2 separate regions of the Homo sapiens genome follow, and region 2 is linked to region 1. The links come from fine-mapping of genetic effects on gene expression. Tissue or cell type: whole blood. Region 1 holds a variant in brackets; the other region holds the start of a gene. All regions are shown on one strand. Distances are between the middles of the regions.

Region 1 (2,500 bases):
AATTTTAGGTTTGTTCTTGTTTTTCTACTATCTTGAGTTGCATTGTTAGATTATTTACTTGAAATCTTTCTAGATTTTTGATGTGGGCGTTTATTGGTATTAATTTACCTCCTAGCATTGTTGTTGGGTTTCGGTATGTCCTGCCTCTATTTTCATTTGTTTCAAGAAATTTTTTTATTCCTTTAATTTATTCCCTGACCCAGTGGTCATTCAGGAGCATGTTGTTTAATTTTCATGCATTTGTACAATTTCCCAAGTTCCTCATTATTCATTTCCAGTTTTATTCCATCACGATCTGAGAATAGTTTGGCTGGTGGGGTTTATTTTTCTTTCAGCACATTCAATACATCATCCCATTTTCTCCTAGCCTGTAAGGTGGCTGCTGAGAAATTCACTGTTAGTCTGATAGGTGTTCCCCTTCTAAGTGACTTGATACTTTTCTCTTGCTGTTTTATTCTCTGACTTTTGACAGTTTGACTGTAATATGCCATGGATTTTTGAATTGCATCTATTTGGGGTTTTCTAAGCTTCCTGTGCCTGGGTGTCTAAATCTCTTGCTAGACTTGGGAAGTTTTCGGGTATTACTTAATCAAATAGGTTTTCTATCCCTTTTATTTTTGTTTTCTGAGACACCAAAAATTTGAATATTTGATGACTTTATGGTGTCACATATGTCACAGAGCTGTTGCTCATTCTTTCTTATTTTTGTCTGGGTTCAAAAGACCTAATTTTTGAAGTTCTGAAGTTCTGCTTGATGCAGTCTATTGTTGAAACTGTTGGATCTATTTTATATTTCATTCAATGAATTCATCAATTTCAGAATTTTTTTTTATATCTATGTCTTTGGGAATTTTCTCATTCATATCCTAAATGGTTTCTCTGATTTCTTTGTATTATTTTTCTGATTGCTGTTTTCTTGTATCTCACTGAGCTTTTTCAATTTTTTTTGAATCATTATTTTGAATTCTTTTTCTGAGATTTCACACATTTCTTCATTGGAATCTGTTGCTACAAAATTACTGTGTTCCTTTGGAAGTGTCATATTTCCTTCTTCATGTTTCTTGAATCCGT[A/G]TTTCGGTATCTGTACATCTGGTTTAACAGTCACTTCTTCCAATTTTTTGAATTTGCCTTCATAGGGGAGGATATTTTCCTTAAGATATATCTGTGGTGTTGGTCGGGTAGATCACTTTGGCTTTGATTCCAGATGCATGCAATAGTGTAGTCTCAGTATGATTTCTTTGGCTGTAAAGTTATCAGTTGTGTGTGATTTCCTCAGTGGCTTAAGTTGCAGTTTTTAATTGCTGCAATGAAGCATTTGCTGGAGATGGGAACATTAGGTGGGCCCATCCTCGAGCCCCAGGAGTGGCAGCAGCAGGCTGAGCATGCCTGTCCTTGGGCCCTGGGGCAGTGTATGCTGGCACTGATGTTAGAGGGTCCAGGTGGGCTGATTCTTGGGTCTCCAGGAAGCTTGCTTGGATGCCAGCAGTAGCACGGTGGGAAGGTCCTCGGGCTTGCTGCCCATAGACAGCAGGTGTGGTGCGGGCAGTGGCAGGACAACCCTCTGATTCCCAAGTGGTTTGCGCTGGTGGTGGTGGTGACCGTGATGGGCTGGGTGGCTAGTCCCCAGGCCCATAGGTGGTGCATGTGGGTGGTGGTAGCAGCAGGTTGGATGGTCCCTTCCTGAGGCCCCTGGGAGGAGTGCTCAGGTGTTAATGATAGGTGCACCCTCCAACGCCCGATGGTGTGCTTGGGCATAGGGGTAGGTGGAGCCGGGCTGGATAGGTCCCTCAGTGGTGTGTATAGGGCTTGGCTGTGGTAGGTAGGGGTGTTTTTGTGTGGCAGCAGTCATAAACAGGTGGGTTGGGAGCATGCACTTTGGCCCCAGATGGTATCTGCAGGACAGGGTAGCCTGTAATCAGGCTTGACAATGCACAGTGGCTCTGCTGGCTCACTGCCAGTAGCTTGTATACTTTGGCCCTGCGGCAGCACCCAGCTGTGGGTGGGGGACTTTAATGGGGCTTCAGAGATGTGGATATGCAGGGGCTGTTGGGCCTCAGGGAATGATGCAGTCTGCTGGGGGTGGGGCTCTCAAAATGGTGCCCTGCTGTAGCTGCTTAGGACTCGGGGGGATGAGCTCCCTCTCTGGAGCAGTGCCATCATGCAGTCCCCAAGTTCCCTGTTTGTGTGGGTTGAGGGTTTCTTCCATGGCTGGGATTGCAGGACTTCACAATGGGAATGCGGATGCTGACTGTTGGGGGTCACTTACCCTTCTCCAGCATGGGGGAGCCTCCCCAACCAATCCCTGCCAGGTACCCTGCCTTGCTTCCCTCTCCTTACTTGCCTCAGGTGTTTCCTGTCATTTTGGTGGTAAATTCCAGCATTCTCTCTTAGGTGATCTATTCAAAGTGTGATTTATCTACTACTGTTTTGGTGGTTCTTCAAGCAGAAAGCAAGTACCAGGGGCACTTTAGTCAGCCATCTTGAAACCACTCCATTGTTT
Region 2 (2,500 bases), 330 kb after region 1:
CCGTGGCTGGCTCCATATTGCCACAGCTTGAGAGTAGTCCTCACTTCCTAGCAGGTTCTTCAAGGGAAATCTAGAGCTCCCCAAGAGCTGTCACCCTTTCAGTGGTAATACCATGAATTATACAGCATTTTAACCCATGCATGCTCAACTCACACAAAAGCAGAAATATTGGTTACCATTTGGTAGACAAAAAATTAGCTTAATAAAAAATACTATAGCACACCCAAAGGGTTAATGAGGGAACTGGCCTCACGCCTTAATTTATTGCCAAAGAGTCTCTAGACCAGAGAAATAAGTATAAAAATTCTAATAATTCCTGATTCACTTTTGGTGTCTAGGTCAGATTTGTCTTAATTGTCTTTATCTATGCATTTTCTGCAGCAGGAAAGGCTGAGCTGACTAAGTTGCCACTATTCCTTTCCTGGAAGGTACTATTTGTTTTACGAACAAGAGAGTTTTGTTAACTCATTTTTACATTGTCCTTTTTGGCAATTTTCAAGTTACAAATTGGCAGCAATAAGCATTGGTGGTTCTGCTATCTTTTGCAAAATAATTATGAGAAGAAAAGATTTTTTTTTCTAAAATACAGACATATTTAAAATCCAAGAAAGAATGCTATTTAAAAAAAAAAAATAGAGACAGGGTCTCACTATGTCGCCCAGCCTGGACTCAAACTCCTGCGCTCAAGTGATCCTTCCACCTCAGCGTTCCTAGTAGCTGGGACTACAGGCATGTGCCATTGTGCCTGGCTAAACATTATAAGGCTTGGGGGAAAACATCTTCTTTCAGTATAGGAAGGTAATATTGCCAAAAGTTCATTGAAAGTCTGCTCCATTTTGCTTCATGGTCATAATGGAAATGAGAAGAATCAGTCTTACCTTCAGGAATTAGCAGGAGAGAAACGACAACTGAGAGAGAGGATGCCAGAAATCTATAGGAGTTCCTCATTGTGGCTGCTGTCCCACATCAATCAACCTGAAAATCTGTTTTCAGTTCTTAACTGCCTCTATCTATATACTGAGAGTAAAAAGGATGTGGTTTCCTTTCATTTTTTTTTTCAAGTTTCAAAGTTTAGCATTAGGAAACCAAATCCAAATAAGTGAGAATGGTGGATGATGGCTCACTGCCAGCAGGCAGGCTTTCCTTTGCTAGGACTGCTGAGGGGGGCGCTGGAATTCTACAGGGTAGGAGAGGGGCAAGGGACCTTGTTGCCATCAGAGTACACCAGGGAAGACTGTAAAGTGTCTCAGCTATGATTTTGAAGACGCTTTCATCATCTGCAATATTATCTGTAGTATCCATGACTGGAAACTCTCGAAGACTTAAATTAGAATTTTAATAAAAGTCCTCAAAATTGGTCACCAATCAAAATTCTTTCTAGCTGTCTCCTTGGGTTATATAAGAATTAGCAGGCCAAGTGCAAGCTGAGGACAGGAGGGAGATTTATTTACATAGAGGCTCCTGCCTGGATTTTCCTTCCCCACTTTGTGGTGAGTGTTTATTGTGCTCCTGCCTGGTCTGTGGCAGGTGTGGGAACATGGGCTGGAGGAGGGTAGGGGCTCTTGGCCCTTTTCAGCCCTCTGATTGTGCGTTCCTGATTGTCTAGTTTCACAACTTTAGATACTGAAAGTATCTCCGAGTTTCCCTCCCTCCCCGCCCCCCCCCGACCCCTGCTTCCTGCCTTTCTTCCTTACTTTCTTCTGAACAGGTTTAGGTGAGAAAAGAAGTGGGAGTCATTTTTGTTCCAATGTTGGGGAATGTCTCACTCTAAGAAGAGTCAACCTCAGTCCCTGGAGGAACAGTATGCAGTGTGCTTTCTATTTGAAATGAGTTCAGCTCTTTTTCTGAGCTGAGGATGTGGTCTCCGATACAATATACATGGTCAGATGTGCTGTCAGGATGTTGGGTACTGAACCAACCATCCCCATAGTTAACATCCTGATGACTTCAAACCTAGTGGTTACTTCTTTAGAAATCAAGTGACCTTAGAAGGGAGCCCTGCTGAGACCCCTGCATTTCTTTTTCTCAGATATTACAAGTGTATCAAAGGTTAATCATTTTCAGTAACAGCAGTGAGGACCCTGCTATTGGTTTTGGTGAGTAATTTTAGTGCAGACTTAAAAAAGTCAAATTGTAATTAACTACACCTACTGAAAAATTCTTAAAACATTGACAATTTTGTTTATTTTTATGTGAATGGTTGCTCTTCCATTTATGTTGACTTCTAACAACTTTATGAGACATAATTCACACACCATAAAGGTCACCCATTTAGAGTGTATGAGTCAATGGATTTTAGTATATTTGCATAGTTGTGCAGCCATTACCAGTACCATGCTGTTTTGGTTACTGTAGCCTTGTAGTATAGTTTGAAGTCAGGTAGCATGATGCTTCCAGCTTTGTTCTTTTGGCTTAGGATTGTCTTGGCAATGTGGGCTCTTGTTTGGTTCCATATGAACTTTAAAGTAGTTTTTTCCAATTCTGTGAAGAAAGTCATTGG

What was found. PIP is the estimated chance that this variant, and not a neighbour inherited with it, causes the effect.
Region 2: GZMA starts here. The variant in region 1 is fine-mapped to the expression of GZMA in whole blood (INTERVAL, PIP 0.92).

The regions. Positions count from the first base shown.
Region 1 is chr5:55,429,233-55,431,732 of GRCh38, reverse strand. The region is part of intron 4 of PLPP1 (phospholipid phosphatase 1); the gene reads left to right. Among named protein-coding and RNA genes, the nearest start is that of MIR5687, 78 kb to the left of the region's middle. The variant A/G (reference allele first, on the strand shown) is at 1,072.
Region 2 is chr5:55,101,131-55,103,630 of GRCh38, reverse strand. It overlaps GZMA (granzyme A), which reads right to left and starts at 985. Exons shown (of 5, transcript NM_006144.4): 1 at 879-985. The coding sequence starts at 948.